Linked DNA regions of Homo sapiens. The protein of the gene in region 1 purifies or fractionates together with the protein of each later gene. This does not show direct contact. Each region holds a gene or a part of one and is shown in the gene's direction. Other genes may lie near its edges.

Region 1 (3,500 bases):
AAGATTGAGACTCGGTCTCAAAAAAAAAAAAAAGAAAGAAAGAAAAGAAAATCCTTGAGAAACTTTATTTATAGACTTTTAGAGACTGTGGCTTTCCAGTACTCATCACCATGGAGAAAACTAGTCAAAATCACACAGAGTGAATAAGGGTTGCAAGCCAGTGCTGCTTCCTGGAATAAGCTGGTCCACTAGTCTAGTCTTGTGCTTTGTCCTTCATTTTGAACTCAAGTGCCCTGGGGCTGCTTTTCTGCGTACCCACAATAGCAAGGAACTCTTTTGTTTGCATCTCCTCTGAAAGAAATGCTTGTTTTGAGGTTTGGACCGCAAATAATAATCTATTGTTCCCTGTAATAATAATCCACCCTCTTTCGCAGAAAAAAAAATCTGCTTGATGCAGTATGGCTATCAGTTTATTTAAAAGAATAGCCAAAAGTGCCCATTATGTCCTGAGAATAAACATTTGCAAGATGGTTGGGAGGAATGGGGGAGTACTCTTGTTCTCCTTGGCTGAGAGTCAGTTAAGTCTTCAAGGAGAAAAAATTCTGAAAATGACCATCAGTCCTGGCTGACAATACTCTTCCTTATTCTGCCCGTCTGTTACATTCTAAGAATTATTGCAACACTGCAGATATTTATTCCAAACGATTTCTTTAAAAAATATGGAAGATGGGTATTTTTAAGTTACCAATTTTGGGCCAAATAAGTTTTTTTTTTCTGACTTTCATTTTGTCTGTGAAAGCATTTCTTTTATAGCAGTATGTTCAAATTAGCAATCTTTAAGAATTTGGCAAATACTTTTAACAGCAATCCTTAACAATTCCTGCAGTTGCCTACTATTGCAGATCTTGAAAAAAGAGCCATTTTTATATTCTAAGTGGTAGACACATTTCAATTACTATTTCCTGGGCTTAGGCTAACTGACAAAACTTGATGGGTGAAATGAAAATGTGATATACGGTGTAATCAGCTGTTTACTTACCTAGCACAGTGAAATCTTATGGTAGGTATGATTGCACTAACAAAACCAAAACATGCATTTTTCTTCCTTAAGTTCTTTATAAGAAAAGGATCAGTTAAATAATAAATGTGGCTTTAAAATGAAGTTATATCTTAGGATAGTTTTAATTGCATTACATATGGATGATGAGAAAAGTTCAGTGTGATAACAATTGCGTAACAGATAAGCATGAGAACTACTTAAAGAAATAAAAATATGCCCATCACCTCATTAAAAATAGACCATCAGGGAAGCCACCAAGAAGTCCTTCAGTAGGTGAATGAATAAACTGTGGTACATCCATACAATTTGTATATTATTCAGCAATAAAAAGAAATGAGATATTATGCCACAAAAAGACACGGAAGAAAGTTAAGTGCATATTACTAAGTGAAAGAAGGCAACCTTAAAAGGCTACATGCTGTATAATTTTAACTAGATAACATTCTAGAAAAGGCAAACCTATAGAGACAGTATAAGGTCAGTGTTTGCCAGGGGTGTGGGGGGAAGGACGGCAGGAATAAATTGGTGTAGCACAGGGGATGCTTAGGGAGTGAAACTATTCTGTATGATACTGTAATGGTGGAGACGTCACTATTCACCTTTGTCAAAATCCATAAGATCTACAACACTAACACAAATCCTAATGTAAACTATGGACTGTGGTTAACAATGATGTAACCATATTGGCTCATCAATTAAAACAAACGTATAACACTAATGCCAGATGTTAATAATAGGAGAAACAGGTTGGCCATGGGAGAGTGAGGGAATATGAGAATTCTACCTTCTATTCAATGTTTCTGTAAACCTGAAACTGCTCTTTAAAAAGTCTATTAGTTTAAAAAAAAAATTCAATATAACCAGACTAATAAAAATATCTTAACTAAAAAGCAATACAAACCTAAACTGTCAGCAATTATTCTGTTTATAGTGCTATTCTGATTGAACTTAGCTGTAGAATATTCTGCCAGAAATATGTAATGGCAGTGAATTACTGTATATATCTAGTAACTTTGCTGTATCTTTTCTTGTCTGGCAAAAATGCACAGTGGTATTCATGTTAAGTCCTACTTTCAACTACCCTTATTCCTTTCTCTTCAGTGACAGCTGGAGTATCAGCCTTGGAAGTATATACGCCAAAAGAAATCTTCGTGGCAAATGGTACACAAGGGAAGCTGACCTGCAAGTTCAAGTCTACTAGTACGACTGGCGGGTTGACCTCAGTCTCCTGGAGCTTCCAGCCAGAGGGGGCCGACACTACTGTGTCGGTAAGAATGCTTGACTTCTCTTGGCTAGTCCTGCCTCACAGGTTTCTTTACTGCTGTATAATTGGTGATCCATTTTTCTGATGGTTCATTTCCAAAATGAGTGTATTTTTTATCTGTTATAGACTTCAAGGCCCTTCTTTTGCTTCAGGATAAAATAAGTTCAGCATCTCTTAAATGCGTCTGGTTTCCTTGTCTTTGATCAGTTCCTCTCCACCATCAAATCCCATTCTGAAATTGATCTTAATTGACCACACTGACTCTAATCAGGATTTATCCTGCATCTTTTCATCTTTTATTGCCCCATATTTATTGATATTTGTTTTATGTATTATCAAATTTTATATATATATGTATGCATCTTCTGATTTGATTATCTTTTTTTAATTTAGCGTATAGTCCATCTGATTTAGCAATATTGATTTGGGAGCTTACTATGTAGTGGGTTATGTAGGGCCTTCAAAAATGTCTAAAACAGAATCCTTGCTCTCACCTAGAGATGATTAGGAGGAAGGCTGATATATAGATGACTTTGGAGTAAGATAAAGGATGTAACAGAAATACAGCACCAGAGCATTGAAAAAAGGTTATTTAGTAACTAGTGGAGTGCTGGTTATTAAACATGAACTGACTATCTTGGTTCTGGTCTGTAAAATGGAGACGATAAAACCTCCCACACAAGGGTGTTAGGAGGATAAAGTAAGATTATTCAAGATAAGTGCTCAGGAGAGTGTCTAGCTCTTGAGTTACTAAAATACACCATTTGTTGTTACTGTTGCTCTCCCAGCATGTGGAATGCCCTTCATATATTGGCACATATTTTAGTACTGTTGCATGTTTCAGGTTGTCAGTGTTTAGCAAGGACAGTCTGTCATCTATCTTTAAGAATGCCCAATTCTTCTTCTGAATGGTGAGTTACATTGTTGATCACCACCTAGATGTTGGGCCCATCATATGCCTATGCCATTTAATCTTCACAGCTCTATGAGGAAGACAGGGTGGGGAGGATGGGAGACACTGACTCAAGAGTTATTCACCTGTGGCCATACCACACAGGTTAGAATTGTTTAAACTTCAATACGGTATGATTTCCCTTATGTATTATTTCTCTCTCAGGTAGAAAAATCTGCTAATAATATTTACGGCCTCATAGGTTTTAGGGATTACCTAAGGCAGTGCTTCTCAGTATTTTTTAAAATTTATTTTTAAAAGGAGCCTTTTCACATTTTTCTTAA
Region 2 (3,500 bases), on another chromosome or scaffold:
AGCCTTTTTCCTGTTAAAAGAGCATTTTTAAAATGCTGTGCACTGTTGCCTTTCATATTGCTGTCAATTCATATAATAACCAGATACCTGTTGTATGTTTAAACAACAACTCCTCTTTAGCTATTTCTGTACCCTAAGGCTTTCCAGGACCATGACACTAGCCCCATTTGTAAGAGTCAAAAGCAGCCTCCTCTTTCCTAGGATGTCTGTGAGCCCCCAGCTGGACCAGGAATCTAAAGTACACTGTCCCACAAATGTCTGATGAAGTAACATGCCCAAACCTGAGGGAGCCCTGCTGTTTCTGCATTTTCTTCCCTTATCCTTTCCAATTTTCTGTGTGTTTAGAAGTTTTCATGATAAAATGTTGGTTGGGGGCAGACTTATAAATGTAAAAATAAATAAAAGAGTGAAATGTTCTGTTTTCATTCAGATTTCACTTTATCTCTTACCCACCTATGTTAATGGCATTATTGTAACCTGTTGAGTAGGCATAGGTGTTATGCTGATTAATAGATACACTATTCTTCCTATAAAATTAACTAAAGGGATTTTTAAATAACTTAAATTGCATCCTTGAATAAAAGGCAAGTCATAGAAGACTAAGATAACCAGACTGCCATCAAATTAGCAAATAATTTTATTTCAGGAGTCTATTTGTAAGTCAGTGATAAGCTTAGTAATCAAACTTAGAATACATTTTTCCTTGAGGATACTTTTATAGTTGATAGGCTCCTGGGCCAGGCCACAGAAGTTTCTATTAATCAAAATATACCTGAATATCACTTTCATAAAGAGGCTTGTAGAAAGTTATCACCATGTTAAATATGTTCCCATGGGAAAATGTGCTAAGAATGTAATGTAGGATGCCAGAAACTGACCTGCCTTCTCACCAGCCCTAGTGTCAAGGTCAGAGATGACCCTTCTCTCCATTCATTCCTCCCAGCTTCCTACCAAGAAAGACGACTCCTCAGTCCAAGTCATTGATCGTGGTTCTCATAGTTTGAGAGAGAAGTTCTGAGAGCAAAAAGCCTGGACAGGATGATATTATGTCATTGAGGCCTAACCATCATCACTCTAGAACACTTTTTCTGTATTAAAGCATATTATAAGTTTCAAAGAGCTGACTTACAAGTAATGGATTAATAACTAACTTTACTAACTTTACCCATTTGAAGACTGGCATGCTGAACAACCCAATATCATTTCATTCTGAGCAAGAATATCATTCCCAGAAAAAACCAGGAGGATTTGTATCACAACGTACCCTTTCATTTACTTGATTTATTTGTGTTTTCAGGCCCGTGGTCGAGCCAGAGCTGATGAGAGCACCTACGTCCTGGTTGCTCACAGTGGTTCAGGAGTTATCGAACATGAGACAGTTAATGATTTCCGAGAGAAGATGATGTATAAAGCTATACATTGTGTTCAAAATATGAAACCAGAGGAGTATGCTCATAAGGTATTGTTGGTCACCTCTGAATTTGATTTTCATTTAAAAATGGCGGCATGTGGTTGCCATTGATATCTCTGTGACTCATTCTCCAGACAAAAATTGTGCTGAATTATAAGTTTCTGTTTAGTGAACTGTGCTTAATCCAGATTCACATGCAGAGAATCAAGATCCATGGTGGGCAGGAAATTATCAGGGAGCCATTCCTCATTCCAGTAAAACCAACCATAAATTTGGATAATATAAATTTAGCCTGCCTTGTTCCAGAAAGACTGCTGCAACTCACTGATTCAATCCAACATGGTAATTTTGGTTTGATCCAATTTGTTTGTAAAGGCACAGTTTTTTAATTTCAGAAATGTAGATGAAACGCCTACTGTGTGCCAGGTAACCTTATAGGAACAGCCAACAGAGGAAACAAAACACATAAGACTCCTGCTGCACGAAGTTTATATTTCTAGTGTGTGCCTGGTGAAGTTTGGAGGACAGAAACAGTAAACAAACATTAAAAGACAAGAAATATAATATATCAAGATAAGTGAAGAGAATTAGAATAGGATGATATGAAACAACTGACTAGATGGATACTTTCTTGTTTTTAGTAGTTTTTGAAATTCTTTTTTTTCTTATTATACTTTAAGTTCTAGCGTACATGTGCACAACGTGCAGGTCTGTTACATATGTATACATGTGCCATGTTGGTGTGCTGTACCCATTTACTTGTCATTTACATTAGGTATTTCTCTTAATGCTATCCCTCTCCCCTCCCCCCACCCCACGACAGGCCCTGGTGTGTAATGTTCCCAGCCCTGTGTCCAAGTGTTCTCATTGTTCAATTTCCACCTATGAGTGAGAACATGCGGGGTTTGGTTTTCTGTCCTTGTGATAGTTTGCTCAGAATGATGGTTTTCAGTTTCATCCATGTCCCTACAAAGGACATGAACTCATCCTTTTTTATGGCTGCATAGACTAGATGGATACTTTCAACTGGGTGGTTGAGGAAGGTCTCTTAGAAGGAGTGACAGGGAAGCTGCATCTGAATGATAAGAAAATACAGAATATGTCATCTAGCTACATCTCAATTTACTAACACACAGTTATTTGAGTTGTGCAAAGGAATGCAGTGAAGAAAGAATGTATTTCTATAGTATTTCAGGAAATCCCCCATACCACTGAATTAAAAACTGTAACTACTATAATAGCAAACAATCCATTTAGAAGAAAATTCACACCCTTGCATATGGGTGTGAATGTTAGTTTCTTAACATTGGAATTGGCTCTACCTTAAATAGAGTTTCACTAAAGGGATGCTTTCAAATTGGTGTGCATTGCTATTACCAACTCCAAGGTTTCCTGACCAGGTTTCTGCACAAAACTTTATTTTAAAACCCCTTTAAATACAAGGCAAAGCAAATATTTTAGAGTATCAAATCAAACTTTTGTCACCAAATTATGCCACTGGAAAGTTACTGCCTCCCAGTTAATGTCCTAAGAGAATTAATCAAGTAGATGTTTACAAAGACTGATGTTTTAAGAGTAGTTTTTTGGGGGTCAACACTAGGACAATCTCTGGAGTTTAAGGGTCAAATTCTTCCAGACATTCTTTAGAATAAGACTCTGTCCCTTTGGGTGCCCCAGAATGGACTATATTTTTAGGTCTCCTTTGGCCAAGAAACCTGCCCTCCTAAAACTACTTCAGGTAGATGAACTTAGAGTAGGAGTGGCAATGGGGAAGGAGGGCTACATGCCACCAGTAATCTGTTCAAAGCCTGTAGAAAACATTGCTACTGGGAAGATGTTTACTTTCTTCTAATTTGAGCATCTTTCTCAACACAATCTTCAGACAACCACTAATGAATGATGAGAATTGACAGATAAGATGAAATCTTTCTTCCATGTCATAAACACAGTTTAAACATAACAGAGCTTCTTAAAATTAAATCAGACTTCTAGGAGCAAGTTGATCATCATAAATGTTTTTCTCTAGCATTGATTCAATTTTTTTGCTACATTATTACACTTTATTTGGACTTAGGCTGATTGTAGCTGT
Region 3 (4,060 bases), on another chromosome or scaffold:
TTCCCCTATTTTTTTTGAGACAAGTCTCACTCTGTTGCCCTAGCTGGAATGCAGTGGTGCAATCATGGCTCACTGAAGCCTCAACCTCCTGAGCTTAAGCAATCCTCCCGCCTCAGCCTCCCAACGTGCAGGGATTACATGCATGAGCCACCACGCCCAGACTAAATATGTGTTAAACTAAAGCAGAAGCATCATTACCCGAGTAGGCTCTATAGGAGGAAAGAGGAGACAAGTGAGGAAAGGAGAGAGAATGAAAAAAAGAGACTTAAATTGTAAGCATTGAAGGTTAGGATGGGAAGGCGATTCGCATTTAAATCTCAGGACCCCATTTAGGCTTCTACCTCCCTGACCGCTGGGAGGCTGGTTGCTTTTCACCCCTCTGGGTTCACTTCTATTTGTCTGTGAGCTGTCAGCATCCTTCCCCACTTGTCTTGCCCTGCCTCTGCCAGGGAGGCAGAGTTGGGAGTCGTGGCACAGGCATGCACGCTGTGCAGCCTCCCACACCTGCACCCTGAAAGACCAACAGACACCCTAAGAAACCTGATACACAAGCACAAACTGATAAGATACCCAAAAAGTCAAAGGCAGACAGCAAAACATGGCTAATATTACACAGTACTGCAAGAGAAAGTAACACCAAAACAAAACAAAACACAGACATCATCTCTCAGTTCCTTCTCAAATAAAAAAAAAAGGCCAGGTGCAGTGGCTCACACCTGTAATCCCAGCACTTTTGGAGGCCGAGGTGGGCGGATCACTTGAGGCCAGGAGTTTGAGACTAACCTGGCCAACCATGGCCAACATGGTGAAATCCCCCTATCTCTACTAAAAATATAAAAAATTAGCCGGGCGTGGTGGCTGGCACCTGTAATCCCAGCTACTGAGAGGCTGAGGCAGGAGAACTGCTTGAACCTGGGAGGTGGAGGTTGCAGTGAGCTAAGATTGTACCACTGCACTCCAGCCTGGGCAACAGAGTGTGACTCTGTCTCAAAAAAAAAAAAAAAAAAAGGGTGGGTGAGGTGGTGGCTCACACCTGTAGTCCTAGCACTTTGGGAGGCCAAGGTGGAAGGCTCTCTTGAGGCTAGGAATTCGAGACCTGCCTGGACAACAGACAGAAACACTGTCTCTACAAAAAATAAAAAAACTAGCTAGGTGTGGTGGTGTGTGCCTGTAGTCCCAGGTACTTGGGAACCTGAGCAGGAGGACTGCTTGAGACCAGGGAGCTGGGCCTGCAGTGAACCATGGTTATGCCCCTGCACTCCAGATAGGGTGAAATGGGTAGTTTTTCACTTGATCTCCTCCTCATTGTCTCTTACGTTTAAACAAGTCTCAAACCTGGTGCAGAGGTGCATGTACCTCCATTGCTGGACAAGGCCTGACTTTTGCCTGCTGGTAGGGCCTCCTCAGTTCTAACCAGCCTTCTGTGACCTCATTCTCTATCCTGGTTCCATTTTCCACTTTGTGACTTCATCAGTTAAAGATCCCATTTCAGCCACCAAGGTTGAGAGGCCCCAAGACCCAGTTCCTTTACAGAATCAACCCTGGGGTGGCTTTAGGACTGGGCTCTTTGGAGCTCATCCTTGGACCCACAGTGGAGTGCTGGTCCGTGCTGATGTCTTCAGATACCAATCAATGGGCATTTGGCTCCTTGCTTCCACTGACCTCTTGAGTACTTTCAACGATCGGTGTCAGGAGTGCCCCAGCTGCTGTTTCTAGAGCATCTCTGCAACCCACGGTGGCCTCTCCTCTCTCTGCGGGCCATGGACAGCACAGTCCCTTCAGCCCTGGAGCTGCCCCAGCGGCTGGCACTGAACCCAAGGGAGAGCCCGAGGAGTCCAGAAGAGGAGGAGCCCCACCTGCTGAGCAGCTTGGCTGCAGTCCAGACCCTGGCCAGTGTCATCCGGCCTTGCTATGGCCCCCACGGCCGGCAGAAGTTCCTGGTGACCATGAAAGGAGAAACAGTGTGCACGGGGTGTGCCACTGCCATCCTCAGGGCCCTGGAGCTGGAGCACCCAGCAGCATGGCTCCTCCGGGAAGCAGGACAAACCCAGGCAGAGAATAGTGGGGACGGCACAGCCTTCGTGGTTCTGCTGACGGAAGCCTTGCTGGAACAGGCAGAGCAGCTGCTGAAGGCTGGCCTGCCTCGCCCGCAGCTCCGGGAGGCCTACGCCACGGCCACTGCAGAGGTCCTGGCCACACTGCCCTCCCTGGCCATCCAATCTCTGGGGCCTTTGGAAGATCCATCCTGGGCCCTCCATTCTGTGATGAATACCCACACCCTGTCCCCCATGGACCACTTGACCAAGCTGGTGGCCCACGCCTGCTGGGCTATCAAGGAACTAGACGGCAGCTTCAAGCCTGAGCGTGTTGGGGTGTGCGCGCTGCCCGGGGGGACACTGGAGGATTCCTGCCTCCTCCCGGGGTTAGCAATATCTGGGAAGCTCTGTGGGCAAATGGCCACAGTGTTAAGTGGTGCCAGGGTGGCTCTCTTTGCTTGCCCCTTTGGTCCTGCCCATCCAAATGCACCAGCAACGGCCCGTCTTTCTAGTCCTGCTGATCTAGCTCAATTTAGTAAAGGAAGCGATCAATTACTAGAAAAGCAAGTAGGCCAGCTAGCAGCTGCAGGAATTAATGTGGCAGTGGTGTTGGGGGAGGTCGACGAGGAGACCCTCACACTGGCGGACAAGTATGGCATCGTGGTGATTCAAGCTAGGTCTTGGATGGAGATCATTTACCTGAGTGAGGTGTTGGACACACCTCTGCTGCCTCGTCTGCTCCCTCCCCAGAGGCCAGGCAAGTGCCAGAGGGTTTACAGGCAGGAGCTGGGAGATGGTTTGGCTGTGGTATTTGAATGGGAATGTACAGGCACACCTGCCCTCACTGTGGTTCTCAGGGGAGCCACCACCCAGGGGCTGCGGAGTGCAGAGCAGGCCGTCTACCACGGCATTGATGCCTATTTCCAGCTATGTCAAGATCCCAGACTGATTCCAGGAGCTGGGGCCACAGAAATGGCTTTGGCAAAAATGCTTTCTGATAAAGGAAGCAGATTGGAAGGGCCCAGTGGGCCTGCATTCCTAGCATTTGCCTGGGCCCTGAAGTATCTTCCTAAAACTTTGGCAGAGAATGCAGGCTTAGCTGTCTCAGACGTGATGGCAGAAATGAGTGGAGTGCACCAAGGTGGGAACCTCCTAATGGGTGTGGGAACTGAAGGGATAATAAATGTGGCCCAGGAAGGGGTGTGGGACACCCTAATAGTCAAAGCCCAAGGATTTCGAGCAGTGGCTGAGGTGGTGCTACAGCTCGTGACTGTAGATGAAATCGTAGTGGCCAAGAAAAGTCCCACACATCAGGAGATCTGGAATCCTGACTCTAAGAAGACAAAGAAACACCCACCTCCTGTGGAAACAAAAAAAATCCTTGGATTGAATAACTAGTGATACCCTCAATAAAACAGGGATTGCCAAGAAGGGAACAATCACCCCAAAAATGAATGTTTGCCTTTATTCCGTGTTTGGTACTTGATTCACTTTCTTTAAATAAAAACATGAAGGAACATAAAATTTCTTTTCATGCGCTTAGTTCCTTTCCAGTTCTCGACTTTTTTTGTTTTTTTTTTTTGAGAGACGGAGTCTTGCTCTGTTGCCCAGGCTGGTGTGCAGTGGCGTGATCTTGGCTCACTGCAACCTCCGCCTCCCAGGTTCAAGCGATTTTCCTGCCTCAGCCTCCTGAATAGCTGGGACTACAGGTGCGCGCCACCACGCCCAGCTATTTTTTGTATTTTTAGTAGAGACGGGGTTTCACCATATTGACCAGGCTGGTCTCGAACTCCTGACCTCATGATCCTCCCGCCTCAGCCTCCCAAAGTGCTGGGATTACAGGCGAGAGCCACTGTGCCCAGCCAGTTCTTGACCTTTTCATTTTGTGTTTCTATCAGATGCTCTTCCTTTCCTATGATAAGAGCAGGATTCAATTCTATTAAGATTTTTAAACTGAGTACCTATGTGGGCTTTGGGCGTGCAAAACACAGTGCAGCAATCTCTTCCCAACTATTTGAGCATTC
Region 4 (3,500 bases), on another chromosome or scaffold:
ACCACCTAGAAGGGTGTAGAGTAACAAAGCTTCAGCTAGGCTGGTAGAACAAGTTCCAAGGTTGCCTTTCAATGTATGAGTTGGTAGATGTCCTCATGGAAGCCCTAGTAATGGAGGGACACGGGCAATACTATCAGTGATTGCCCCAAGTCACTTCACTTTGCTAAAACGCACATAACCATTCCCAGCAGCAAAAACTTGAACGATGTAAAGGAATTCAACTTAAAGATATTCATGGTTCCTTCGTTAGAAGCCTTCTTCAGGTTGGCCTTGACTTGCCTAAAACCTCAGTGAGGACTTGAGTAAAGGGCAGACTTGGAGATGGGGTGGGGTTCATGCTGATTCCCTGGAATTGTGCTATGGGGTCTCCTGTGGCCAGATGGAAGGCCAGATTCAGCAACCAAATATCGGAAAATTGGCAAAGGTTTTAGAAGGTTTAAACTGGCCAGATGTCCAGGCACCCTTCCTGCTTCTGTAAAATGACTGACTTTAATATTTTACAATGTGCTGTATTTTCTCTTCTTGGCAAGTGAAATGTCTTAAACATAATACTTTTTTCCACTTCTGGGATTGTAGTTCTGACCTGTAAGATAGAAGAACTTGGCAGCGAACTCAAGGAACATTACAAGATTGAAGCTTTCACTCCTTTGCTAGCCCCAGCACAGGTAAGAGTTGTTCTAATAGTTCTCACTAATTAATATTACGTTTTTAAATCGATGACCAAGAGGCATCCTTCTTGCTTCCTTTTTCACTTCTTGTCTGTGTTCTAGTTTGAACATCTGTCTTGGTTGAATTTGGGAAAATGGGCCCTTCTGAAGAAAGATTTGTAAGTGCTGTCTGGTTTTGTGGCCAGAGAGTGATTTTCTTCCCACTTGGATTAGAGTCTTGCACATAAGCAGAGACTCAAGGCCTTGTTTCCCTTGGTGGTGAGTCAGGTAGCTCCCCGGGGATTTCCCACAAATAGAAGCATTCACGTATCGAGATAAAAGGACAGCAGCGACGGTGGGGTTTTCAGAATCTTGTTCTCTGGACAATGACTCACAGTCTCTCCCCTGGTTTGGTCTCTTGTTATAGACAAACTGCTGCCAATAGTATCTTTATATCATAGTTTAATCTGGCATATATACCAGTGCTTTCTCTCTAGAATGTTTTCTAATCTAAGGGGAAATATATTCTAGAAGTTTCTTTAAAGTACCTTTGTCAATGTTTACATTCAAAGAATGATCAGTTGGGGAAGTGATGCAGAACTGTGTCATAGAAGGAAGTGTTAGAGGACTTGGAAGGAAGTAATTGAGGGAAGGCAGGGAGGCACAATCACTGGGAAAGATGAGACTTCCTCTGTTTTCTCCCAAGAGTGGGAACAGAACAGAGGAAGCCATGGAGACAGAGATTTTAGCTCAATTAATAAAGAACTTCCTGTTAAGAGGTTGTATGGTATGTGGCTAAGGATATGGCTCTAGAGCCAAATTTCTGGTTTCAAACCCAAGCTTCACCCACAGTTTGACCTTGACTAAATTATCTAACCTTTCTGTTGCTTGTTTTCCTCATCTGTAAAATGGATACAGTAATATCCACCCGATGGTTGTTGCAAGGATTAAATGAGTTAATACATATAAAATGCCTAAGAATACATTTTAGAACAGTGCATGGTATTTAGTAAGCTCAAGAAATGTTAGCTATTATTAAGTAGTTATAGCTGCCCAAAGATGCAGTGGGCTGCCCTGGGGTGGTGAGGACAGGGTGGGGTAGGCATCCAGGGGCAAGTTCCCCTACACTAGAGATGCTCACACTTAGGCAGCCTCCTAGGAAGGCTCAAGTGCTGGGTGGATGGGTGGACAAGATGCCCTTTCAGAGTTCTTCCATCCTGAGAGTCAGTGATGACGCGGTAGTCACCTCAGGGTCAAAGCAATGCCCTGCCAAGAAATGTATTTGTTGTTTGCAGTTTGTTTTGCTATTCACCCTATCGACTTCAGATTTTGAGCTCCTGCTCCAAAGACTGTCATTCTTATGCTGTGACCTTCCTTTGGTAGGAGCCTGTCACTCTGCTGGGCCAGATTGGCTGTGATAGCAACGGGAAGCTGAACAACAAGTCAGTGATTCTCGAGGGAGACCGGGAACATTCCTCGGGTGCTCAAATTCCAGTGGATTTATCTGAGCTTAAGGAATATTCTCTGTTTCCTGGACAGGTGAGATTGGAGGAGTTCCACCAGAATGCAGGCGCACTCTTTACCCCTGTAGTGTAGGTGCTGTGCCATGCGCAGCTGCTCCTCAGTTCCTGTCTCTGCTGCCATGGGGTGCAGCTGGAGCACATGCCCCAGAGCAGACACCACTGTTGGGATTCCTGTTTCCCCCATGCTCTGACCCAGGCTCTGGGACCTGACTGCGCAGCCTCAAATCCCAACTCCCCGCTCCATGAGGTGCATGACTGTGCACAAGGTACTTAACCATCTAAACTACAGTTTCTTCACTCACAAAATGGAAATAATAATTCTTACCTCATAGGATTGTTGTGAAAATTAGATCACTTATATAGAGCATAATTATTATTACTAATGCAACGCCCTTAATTCGTTTTCTACAAAAATGCCCTAAGTTTATGATTACAGAATGAGAGTAGTTGGACAATGCTTTTAACTGCCTCAAAATAATGTATTCCAGACCTCATTGATCTCCACTGCTTAGCAATCCTGTTTGTTTTTGTCTTTCAGGTTGTAATTATGGAAGGAATCAACACCACTGGTAGGAAACTTGTTGCCACCAAACTCTACGAGGTACACAGCAGTACCCCCACTTGCCTCTTGGTTTGCTTCAGACAAAGTATGTCTGGAAGCTGTCTGTTCTAGAAACTGGTCCTTTTTAGGAGCCCATTTATTTGTTAGTCAGTTCTCCATCTGTAAGTGGGAACCCACCCCTAGGCCAGGGGTCAGCAAACCCTTTCTATAAAGGGCCAGACAGTAACTCTTTTAGACTTTGTAGCTATATGGTCTCTGTCACAATGACTCAATTCTGCCTTTGTCTACAAAAGCAGCCATAGAGGACTCTTAAACAGATGACTGTGGCTGTGTTCCCATAAAACTTTATTTAAATAGTGGGCTGCAGCCAAATTTGGCCCAGAGGCCGAAAGGTTACCTATCCCTGCTCTAGGCAACAATCCTCCAGAGATTTTCGTAGAATGCCAGGAAAAGTAGCAAGAAACCATTCTCTCCCATCCTTGCCTAGAAGTACACTGATACTTTAGGCACCTGTTTTGCTCCCACTTGTTGCTGGGTATTTTATGACAATTGAGTAGTGACCTCCCATTACCTGGGTTTCTTTGCCCTCTGAGCAGTATAGAAAAATGGCAGGTCCCATCAGATCCAGGGAGCAAGACAGAGGCACATCCTTCCCCTGCCCTCTCGCTCCTCCCCACTGTCCTCCCATCACACACCTGCACCACCCCCAACCTGGTGCCCTCCCCTTTCCTTACCAAGGTGATGCCTGGCGCAAGACCTTACTTGAGC
Region 5 (3,500 bases), on another chromosome or scaffold:
GCAAGACAGCAAGGGCACCCCTGGGCCACTGCTGTGTTTGGGAGGCAGGTTTTGGGGGTTGTCAGAAGGCATTCACCTGGTTCTCTCGCTCACCTGAGACACCCGATAGATTCCTGGAAACTCCAGGAAAGTATCTGAAGATCTGGTTCTCCATTCTCTCTTATTAACAAGGAGAACCACAAGTGCCCCCCAGATCCCGGCTAGAAGGACCAGACAGCTTTCCACCCCGGTTCCCAGGCAGCCCTGCTCCCATAGTCCTGTGTCCCATCGGCCCCATGCTCCCAGGACAGTCCTAATTCCCACCTCTCAGAACCTTGTCAGCCAAGTTCTTCCTGCTCTCTGGCCCAAATCCTCCTCCTACATTGGAAACTGAGCCTCTCTGCATCCTCTGCTCTTTCTATCCCGCTGTCATTCATCAGATTTTCCAAATCTTTGGATTCCTGAGTGGCAGAAGAGGTTTTCTGAGTTTAAGTTCTGATTCTGTGTGTGATTCTCACTCTACCACCTCTTCAAACCTTTGTTGTCTTATCTACAAAATAGAATAGTAGTAATCCATCACCTAAGGTTGTTGTGAAGGTTCAATAAGTTAATGCGTATTTAAAATGCCTCCCACAGTACCTGACATATACTGGGCTTCAGTGAGGTACTAGCTATTATTATTAACCAAGTTTCCTGTGGTAACAGTTGTAGCTTTGTGACTGGGCCAAATCACTTAACCCCTCTGCGCTCCAGTCTTTGTTTCTATAATGGGGATGATGATAATGCCTAGCTCATTGGATTGTTCTGTCCCCTACGATCAGCCATGTTAAGTGATTCATATCATGTCTGGTACTTAAAAATCACGCCACGCATGTACATTATTATGATGAAAAATATGATCCGTGATATCCTGACCAAAATATTAAAGGGACTAAAGATAGCTGTGGCTTGTTCAAGAAGAATATTGTGTCACTATCCCATATATTATCCCATTTGCTCTTCACAGCTTCCATTTTTCGCTAGGCGGATGGCATGGAACTTTTTATAAATGAGATATTATGAAAAATGATGTTTTAGGACTCTCATTTCTACAGTGGGAGTAGGTCACCCATTGCAATTTTGGATTTGCTTAAAAAAATTCTTGCCATCACCTTCTAATGGATGATCTGTGTACAACAATTGTTTATTGACTCTGAATGTCTAAGTACCAGGGTCAGTCTATTTCAAGGGGAGGGAAGCATTAATTAACCTCCAGCATTAGATTCAGTGATTCTTTTCCAATGATGCAGTTCATGACTTTGCTCGCATTTACTTTTCATCAATCCTGAAAGAATTGAGGTAAAATAGTTCCTCTGCACATGTGTGTCAAGCTAAATGGATAACAGCAGATACAGATCTGTTTGCCTGTCTGCACTTGCCTTTAGACAAAATTCATCAATTTTACAAAAGCCACTGACTAAACATGGCACCAATACAAATGAAGCACTTCTAGCAGGCGGAGATTCCCTTTGTTTCTGATCTGGTAAATGCGGTAGTTTCCTGCTGAGAGATGGGAAGTGCTGGCCTAGGACAGCAAGGTGCCCTACAGGTGGGGCCAAAAGGGTCAAGACCGTTCTACAGGAAGTTTAGGAGAAGTTCAATGGTTCCAGATCCTGTGTGCTTCGGGTAATTCTGACCCTCTTCATTAGTGATAATGGCATGAAGCTCTTTCACACAGTCTTTTTTTTTTTTCTTTTTTTTTTTCAGACAGGGTCTCACCCTGTCACGTAGGCTGGAGTGCAGTGGTGAGATCACGGCTCACTGCAGCCTCGACTTCATGGGCTCAAGCGATTCTCCTGCCTCAGCCTCCTAAGTAGTCGGGATCATAGGCACTTGCCACCACATCCGGCTAATTTTTTTGTAGAGACAGGATTTCACCACATTACACAGGCTGGTTTCAAACTCCGAGGCTCAAGTGATCTGCCTGCATCGGCCTCCCAAAGCGCTGAGATTACAAGCGTGAGCCACTACGCCTTGCCCTCCACACAGCCTTGCTTGGTGTTAAAGATTAAACAAAGACCACAGGTGATCACTGTCTTCGTGGTGCCAGTTTCAAGGGCACCCTTCTTCCCTTCCCAGCCTCCGAGAGAAGGAGAGAGGGTCCACAAGCCAGATCCATCCCCATCCACACAGGTAAAACCACGACTGTGCAGCTAGCAGGTGGAGATAACATTTGGAAAAAGGCTTTGTAAATGCTAAAGTCCTACTCAAGTCCAAGGGAGAGAAATTATTATTATTCGTTTTGTGAAACCAATTTAGTTTGGCTGGGTAATGGAAGAATTTCTACATACATTCATTACTTCTGATCAGGCAAGACCAGTCTGACACAGGAACAGTCTATGGCTCACTCTTAAAGCCACAGCAGGCTGCCAGGGCTTGGAGAAATAGAAACCTCTCTTGCACAAGAATAGTCTCAATGAATCATGTTAAGGCCTCTTTAGGTTTTTCAGACTCCATGCACCCTGTGGAAACTGCCTTTCTTGAGTAGAGGTACGTTCAGCACTTCATAAAATAATCTTGGAGCCTCCAGACACACGGATGGAGGAGCATGATTTCATTTGTTTCTTTGCAAAACTGCTGTCCCCAACTGAAAAACCTGATTATCCTTTCAAATAGGGAATTCGGCTTTCCACGTTGGAACCAGAACAGTTAACCTTCAAACCCCCAAGGCTTGCAAGAGATGAATCAGTTTCTCAGACAGCCAAAGCCGTGGCTTATAACTCATCCAACCCAGAAAACTGGACCGCTGGTCACCTTCCTTCCCCCTGCCCCCAACTCTGCAGACAGAGGTTTCCCGTTGATTATGCCTTGATTAGAGTCAGGAGAGAAGCAAACCAGGTATATAGGATTCCATTATCCTTCCCTCCTCTGCTCCCAACCAGGGTCACGCTGAGAGGGATCTCGGTGAACATGTGAACAATCAAGCCATGTTTACCATGGACGTTTAGTTTTCTTTTCTCAAAATCAAAACAGAGTTTAGTAGGCAGCGTATTTCATACATGCCCCTTGATCAATGGAATGATCTGTCAGAAGCCATTAAAGCCCCCATTAGCTTGAATGCATTCAAAGCTAAACTATTGGATCATTTAAGGGCTGCAGTGATTGTTTTTAATATACCGTACATTGATTTCTCCCTGTGAGCAGCAACATAAGTTTGAAACTAACTGTGTATGACTAAGGCTCCATTTGCTGTCTCCAACCCTCTGTGAGAAGCATGGTTTCACTTCGACCAGAAATGTCTGTGTATAGTTTTCAAAGAGATGCAGACCCTGTTCGATTTCCCAAGATTTAGACTGGGTCGGGTTGTTATTTCTTTTTTCCCTGAGCTTTCTCCCATTTCTTTGTGCCCATTAAGTGAGCTGTGCGTGCAGAATGGGAGAGGCATCCCTGCCAAGGACTTCAAGTGAAAGGCGGTGGGAGAAATTGTTCTGAAAGCATGAAGCCCAGCTGAGGCCAAAATCAAAGTGAATTTGACAGCCTTG
Region 6 (3,500 bases), on another chromosome or scaffold:
AAGGCTCATACAGATTATATGACTGTCTCATGGTCATGGGAAATTAGGAGAGATCTGAGGATAAATTTCATGCCTCCCATGGCTCATCCCAGTGCTTATTCAACTACAGTGCATGTCGTGCCTATAACCTCACCTAGTTGCTCACATCAATTTCCACTGCAGGTTCCAAGCTGGCTTACTTCATCCAGTGGAAGAAAGGAAATAATGCTAAATACAGAATTGTGTTTCAGGTACAGAGTAATAGATAAATTAGAAATAGGACAAAGTTGAACTCCAAAGGATTTTAGGGTAATAACACCTTTGATTCTGGCAAAATAAATTAATAAAGATAATTATAACAGCAATGATAACATATTTATTCTGAAGACATAAGATGTCAAGCACTGTATTAAGCTTGATAAATATTCATTTAATCTTCAGGGCCACCAAATGAGAATAAAGGCTAATATTATTGCTGTTTAGAGAATAGGAAGCTGAAGTTGAGAGAGTTTAAAGAATGTGCTAGAATTCACACAACTGTATGTGATATAGCTAGGATTCATACCCATGCCTGACCACAGAGTCATATTGGATATGTCTTCTTACTGTGTGAGACTGTTAGGTTGGTCAATTAGGTTGTTATTGGAGCCTACACTAGGACCATGTTACATTTAGGTAGGTTGAATCAGGCCCAGACTGGATTACACTCAAACAGCACACAGGTTTAGGGCTATAAACAGTCCTTTATCTTCCTTGCAATGTAATGTATCCAAGTTGCTGGGAATCCCATATATAATTAACTTAGTATTTACTAGAACGCTTAGTTCAAGAAAGCTTTTTATTTAAAATGTTAGAAGAGCTTATATCCAACTCTCAACTTATAAACTATTACATAACCTCAGGCTTCAGGAGAAGAATTATTGCACTATGTGTGGAATTCTTTCCTTACCATTAGCCGAATCACGTTTCACTGCTTCTGTAACAATCAAACCTATGAGAAGATTTGATATTCAAAATTTAGAGCAAAAATGGTCATTTATATTCTACACACTGCATTACTCCCATAGAGTCTGCAGCACAAGATTACTCACTATTGCTCTCAAGAAAAAAAAAAAATCAAGAATTCACAGCCAGACTACTTAACAACTAGGCAAACAAGTTATATCATCTAGCATGACAGATGGTGAAATTATGAGGCGATCCAACCTATGTTTCTGCATTTACCTCATCAAAGCAAAGGGCAGCTGCCCTGGCTTAAGCGGGGATGAGCTGGGGGTACAAAGGGATGTAGCACTAGTTTCAAGCCCTGGTCACTTCCAGGAGATGTTCTTGATTTTCCTGATAAAGCAACATACCACATATATTATTTTTAGTCTTATAAGTACATTTTAAAACTGACATTAGAAAGCTAGCCTATTCAAAAGAGGAGTACCACGATGGTGAAAGGCACAGTTAAATGAAAAGATTTGTGCATGGTTTGTTTAAGTAGAAGACTGGATTTTTTCATTATGTAGCACTTGAGGGCAATGCACAGACCCATGGATAAAAGTCTGGAAGTCACAAAAAAGGCACACTATTGGCAAAATACAAGGCAAAACCCAACCAACCATTAAAATGATAGCTAGAACTGACTCTTCTGACTAGAAAGAAAGAAAAGAGAAAGCAAGAAAGGAGGGAAGGAAAAGGAAATACACAGCCTCCAATTTTTAAGAAATAGAGGGATGAGGAATATGCCAAAATCTACACCATAGTAGGCAGTAGGCTCTGGGAACCTCTACAGTACAAACAACCCAGTTACTTCAAATAAGTTCCTGGGAACAAGAACAAGAAAATCTGGAGAACAGATGAAAAGAAATGTAAAAAGTTAGCAACCCATCACAATGTATGGAATGGTTGGATCATGATTCAAACAAACAACCTTAAAAAATTCTGATGAAACAAGTGAAAATTTAATATACTCTGGATGTTAGATAACCTTAATGAATAATTATATTTTTAGTGGGATAACCGTATTGTGGTTGTCTTTTAAAATTACTTATTATTTGGAGATACACATTCAAATATTTATGAAGGAGGTGATGTGATATTTGAAATTTGCTTCTAAATAATATGCCCAAGAAGAAAGTAGTTGGGGTGTGGGTGGGGTAGGATTGGCCATTAGTTGATTATGTTGAGGCTGATAATGGGTACATTAAGTTTCATTATAATATTGTCTACTTTTGGGATTATTTAAGCTTCTTCACAATAAAGAGTTAAGAAAAAAAACAGAGTTGATGTTGTTAGTAGAGTAAATCTTTTAATAAGAATTTAATTTTCATAACATATATGGGTCAGTGAATTCTCTGGTCACCAAATTTATTCGTAAGTGCAAATTACTCTCTAAATTGAACAGTGTCTGTTGTTACTGAAATGAAAACCAAATATGCTCATATTAAGCAGAGTAGTCTGGAAATATACTTATGTTTGTAAAAGCAGACAAGGAAGTAATCATTTTTAATATCTATTATAATATGGGAATCTGGAGGTTAGTTTCATATTATTGGTAACATTAATTAGAGACATTAATTAGAAATAGTTTGTTTTTGAGATAGGTCATGGGAAAACCTGAGAACAATTTGAAAGCCTAAGAAGTCAACATGATGCAAGAAAAAATAGTTCTAAAAAGTGCTATGGCTTGGAACATTGCATTTATTGACAGGGTATTAAGTATGAAGCTTTTGTATGACTATCTCTTTGAAATATCACAAAAACTGTGAAAGGCAGGTATCACATAAACCTGATTAGTCTGACTCTGAAACTTCTTGTTATTCTTTACTGCTCAAGTTCACTTTAGGAAAATAGAAAAAAAAAAAAAAGCAGATTGTGAAAACCAGGAGAGTATAGTTCACTGAAAATCAGAGAGAAAATATAGTGCAGAGCTGGGAGAAAGAAGCATTAAGAAAAGAGAGTGTGATAGAGTAGTAAGTGCATGGAGTTTTACTTAAGTCAGAAATTGGGGTTCAGGCACTATCTCCACTACTCAACCACTCTTGGTCTGGGGAGGATGGGGCCTCAAAAGAAGGGTCATGAACTTGGTTAATTAAAAATAATATGGCCAGAGGAATTTTTAAAAATTTTACAAGATCATGCTATTTGGCAAATTAAGTTTATGTTTTTTAAATTGTTCAAATCATCCATGATACAAAATTTGCAGTGACAATGAGCAGAAAATATAGCTGTGTAGTGTCAGCCCTTGTTAGGTTCCGTTAAGAAGCTTTTTCTTGTAGTTTTTATTATTATTTGTAATAGGAACTATTTTTCTCCCCACCCCATAAGCACATAGTATCCATGAAAATGTTCCGTTTATGAGCTTAAATGTTTCTTATTTTTTTTCCTATTTATTTTTGGTTATCATTATGACTGTAATTTAAAATTCATGCTACTTTTACAATGCAAAAATGAATTGAGGCTATTCAGTTATTATACTAAAGGCTTAGGAATCCATAGAGACTTAAGGCCTCCAATACTGTTGGCATTAATTT
Region 7 (3,500 bases), on another chromosome or scaffold:
TAGCCTTATGAAATATATTTCTTAAATAAGACTTAAAAGTCAAAGTTACTCCTTGATCAGTGGGCTGCAGAATGGATGTTGTGTTAGCAGGCATGAAAACAACATTAATCTTGTACATCTCCATCACAGCTCTTGGGTGATCAGGTGCGTTGTCAATGAGCAATAATATTTTGAAGGAATCTTTTCTTTTCTAAGCAGTAGATCTCAATGGTGGGCTTAAACTAAACCGTGCTGTAAACAGATGTGCTGTCATCTAGGCTTTATTATTTATAGAAAACAGGCAGAGGAGATTTAGCATAATTCTTAATGGCCCTAGAATTTTTAGGATAGTAAATGATTATTGGCTTCAACTTGAAGTCACCAGCTGCTTTAGCCTCTAACAAGAGAGTCAGCCTGTCCTTTGAATCTTTGAAGCCAGGCATTGACTTCTCTATAGCTATGAAAGTCCTAAATGGCATCTTCTTCCAAAAGGAGGCCATTTCATCTCCATTAAAAATCTGTTGCTGGCCGGGCTCGGTGGCTCATGCCTGTAATCTCAGCACTTTGGGAGGCCGAGGTGGGCAGTTCACGAGTTCAGGAGTTCAAGACCAGCCTGGCCAACATAGTGAAACCCCATCTCAGCTAAAAATACCAAAAATTAGCCTGGCTTGGTGGTGGGAGCCTGTAATCCCAGTTACTTGGGAGGCTGAGGTAGGAGAATGGCTTGAACCCGGGAGACGGAGGTGGCAGTGAGCTGAGATTGCACATTGCACTCCAGCCTGGGTGACAGAGCGAGACTCCATCTCAAAATAAATAAATAAATAAATAAAAAATAAGTCTGTTGCTTAGTGTAGCTACTTTCATGAATGATGTTAGCTACATCTTCTAGGTAGTTTACTACAGCTTCTATATCAGCATTTGCTGCTTTCCCTTGCACTTTTATGTTATGGAGATGGCTTCTTTCTTTAAATCTTGTGAACCAACCTCTGCTACCTTCCAACTTTTCTTCTCTAGCTTCCTCACCTCTCTCAGCCTTCATAGAACTGAAGAGAGTTAGGGTTGCTCTGAATTAGGCTTTGGCTTAAGGGAACATTGTGGCTTGTTTGATCATCTATCCAGACCACTTCATATCAGCAATAAGGCTGTTTTATTATCATTTGTGTGTTTACTGGAGTAGCACTTTTAATTTCCTTCAAGAACTTTTCCTTTGCATTCACAACTTAGCTAACTGGCTCAAGAGACCTAGCTTTTGGCGTATCTTGGCTTTCAACATAACTTCCTCACTAAGCATAATCATTTCTAGCTCTTGATTTAAAGTGAGAAACAGGTGACTGTTCCTTTCACTTGAACACTTACAGGCCATTGTAGGATATTAATTGGCCTAGTTTCATGTTGATCATATTCTTTATGTTGTCATGGTTCTGTCATAATTCTTTTAGTTCTATGTTTTAATAGTTTTGGTGCTTATTACCAGTACTGTTGCTTCTCCATTCCCGAGTTAGTCCATCTCCTGATTGAATTTCATTGTCAGGCAGTCTTTTCAAGTTACAGGTACTGCATGCATTCTTTGGGTTCTTATACACTTCATTGATTCAAAATATTTGTCTTTTGTTTTTATATTACTTGAAGGATTACTTGGCTAGGTATAAAATTTATCAGTCACACTTTATTCCCCCTCAACTTTGTAAATGTTGTTCCATAATCTCCTAGTGTTTGATTGGCTGGATTTCTTTGTCCAATGTTTTCTCTTTTTATTAGGAAGAATTTGTGAGTATTATAGTCTCTGAGTTTCAATGCTTGCTGTTTTCTTTAATGCTTGAGAATGTCTGTCTATTGCTTTCGTTCCTGAAAAATAACTTGTTTGGGAACACTTTCATTAGAACTTTGTGGTCCCTGTTTTATTATTTTGGGACATCTAGTGTTACTGTAGAAAAGTCTGATTTTTCTCCCTACCTCCTTGAAGGCAATTTTTTTTTTTAATCTAAAATGCCTGAGAGTTTTCTTCTTTATTTTTGAAATTCAGTAATATAAACAAGGTATATCTAAGTGTCACTTATAATCATTTTTCCCTAAATTATAGTATGCCCTTAGTTCTTCTAAGAACATTTTCCTTGTTTATTACCATGAATACTTTTTTTTGGTCAAATTATTAGATCCTCTACTTCATGACACCAGTTTTTTTAATACTGAATTTTCTTTTGTTGTTCGTATGTATTCTAATTGCTTTGATTTGTCTTTTACCTTTGCATTTACTGTGATCATCTGAAGCCTTTCTTTTTGTCAATAATTCTGTTTTCTCCAGTGTCTGTCCTGTTTTTGATATTTTAAATGAATTAATTGGTTAAGTCATTGTGTTATATAGGCTCTAAGTTTCTTTAGCGCTACAAACGCATTTTCATCTTATTCTGCTTCTTCTTGCTTTTGAGCTTGTTTATTATAAGGTTGTATTGTTTTCAAGTTCTTCATTATGATGAAGTTGTTGAGAATTTTCTTTAGTTTTTATTGGGTTATGTATCCTTCCAGAATGGGTTCTTTGCCACTTGTGTGCCCTATTCATTTCTTCATTTTGTGTTCTTTCTTGCTTTTTATTCCCTGTATGTGCGTGTTTCTTTTTGTCAGGCTGTAATACATATGCATACATGTTTCTTCTTGATGTGGGAGAACTTCTATGTGGTGCTGATGGGAAATATTTTTAATACTCCACTCTCCTTACCCAAGTTTGTTTTTCTCCTGAGCCCTAGTTTGAAAGCTGTATATTGTTGGAGTGGAGGGAAAGAGAAGGGAAAAGTGGTGATTCAGAGAGCCAAATGGGGCAATGTGGCTTTTAGGCTCTGCTCTCTTGAAGTACCAAGTATTTCACTCTTGGGTCTGCCCAACTGCTTATGAATAAAATTCCTTTGCCTTGTATGGGGACATCATTCGACCTCAGAGCTCTCATTTCTCTTTGTTCTGAGCCCTAGAATGTGACCTGACCTTCTCCTTCCCAAAGCAAAGAGATGGTTAAAACTCACTCTTGAAATTTTTTTGTTGACTTTTCCTTGTGTTGCTTATTCATTCCTCGGCTCTACTTTTTGTCATTTTGGAGTGTATTTCTGGTAAGTGTTTAGGATTTTGTAAACTATTTCCCTACAACCTCTTATTGGAGGTAGGGGTAGAGTTGGGAATGACCATCAATCACATATAACTTTGTTTCTTATTTTGACTATCAGTCTTCAAAATTTATGGCAGGCCCTTTTATATTTGGTTGCTGCTAATAAAATGTTGGCCTTTTTGTTTTATTTTTTGTTTTTATTTTTTGTTTTATTAGATTTTGAAGAAGGGAGATTCTAAAATGTAGTTCAGGTTTTCTCAGTGTCAGCACAAATAACATTTTGGGTTGGATAATTATTTGTTGTGAGGGGGTTGCCCTGTGCAGAGTAGGATATTTAACAACATCCCTGGCTTCTACCCACTAGATGCCAGTAGCATTCCCCTAGTTAAGACAACCAAAAACATCTTCAGACATTGCCAAATATTCCCTG

The links.
Region 2: the proteins of MPZL1 (region 1) and IFIH1 purify together in Homo sapiens (affinity purification with mass spectrometry; one large-scale study listed by BioGRID and IntAct). This does not show direct contact.
Region 3: the proteins of MPZL1 (region 1) and CCT8L2 purify together in Homo sapiens (co-immunoprecipitation; one large-scale study listed by IntAct). This does not show direct contact.
Region 4: the proteins of MPZL1 (region 1) and POLA2 purify together in Homo sapiens (affinity purification with mass spectrometry; one large-scale study listed by BioGRID and IntAct). This does not show direct contact.
Region 5: the proteins of MPZL1 (region 1) and FTO purify together in Homo sapiens (affinity purification with mass spectrometry; one large-scale study listed by BioGRID and IntAct). This does not show direct contact.
Region 6: the proteins of MPZL1 (region 1) and TRDN purify together in Homo sapiens (co-immunoprecipitation; one large-scale study listed by IntAct). This does not show direct contact.
Region 7: the proteins of MPZL1 (region 1) and ZNG1A purify together in Homo sapiens (affinity purification with mass spectrometry; one large-scale study listed by BioGRID and IntAct). This does not show direct contact.

Annotation. Positions count from the first base shown.
Region 1 is NC_000001.11:167,763,482-167,766,981, forward strand, and holds part of MPZL1 (myelin protein zero-like protein 1 isoform a precursor), read left to right. Parts: intron 1-2,101; coding exon 2,102-2,268; intron 2,269-3,500. UniProt on the Homo sapiens protein: Cell surface receptor, which is involved in signal transduction processes. Recruits PTPN11/SHP-2 to the cell membrane and is a putative substrate of PTPN11/SHP-2.
Region 2 is NC_000002.12:162,270,185-162,273,684, reverse strand, and holds part of IFIH1 (interferon-induced helicase C domain-containing protein 1), read left to right. Parts: intron 1-1,297; coding exon 1,298-1,459; intron 1,460-3,500.
Region 3 is NC_000022.11:16,590,251-16,594,310, reverse strand, and holds CCT8L2 (T-complex protein 1 subunit theta-like 2), read left to right. Parts: upstream 1-1,500; 5' UTR 1,501-1,760; coding exon 1,761-3,434; 3' UTR 3,435-3,560; downstream 3,561-4,060. UniProt on the Homo sapiens protein: Possible molecular chaperone; assists the folding of proteins upon ATP hydrolysis.
Region 4 is NC_000011.10:65,278,962-65,282,461, forward strand, and holds part of POLA2 (DNA polymerase alpha subunit B), read left to right. Parts: intron 1-576; coding exon 577-665; intron 666-2,030; coding exon 2,031-2,186; intron 2,187-2,708; coding exon 2,709-2,771; intron 2,772-3,500. UniProt on the Homo sapiens protein: Accessory subunit of the DNA polymerase alpha complex (also known as the alpha DNA polymerase-primase complex) which plays an essential role in the initiation of DNA synthesis.
Region 5 is NC_000016.10:54,116,656-54,120,155, forward strand, and holds part of FTO (alpha-ketoglutarate-dependent dioxygenase FTO), read left to right. Parts: 3' UTR 1-3,500.
Region 6 is NC_000006.12:123,630,451-123,633,950, reverse strand, and holds part of TRDN (triadin), read left to right. Parts: intron 1-3,500. UniProt on the Homo sapiens protein: Contributes to the regulation of lumenal Ca2+ release via the sarcoplasmic reticulum calcium release channels RYR1 and RYR2, a key step in triggering skeletal and heart muscle contraction.
Region 7 is NC_000009.12:165,557-169,056, reverse strand, and holds part of ZNG1A (zinc-regulated GTPase metalloprotein activator 1A), read left to right. Parts: intron 1-3,500. UniProt on the Homo sapiens protein: Zinc chaperone that directly transfers zinc cofactor to target metalloproteins, thereby activating them.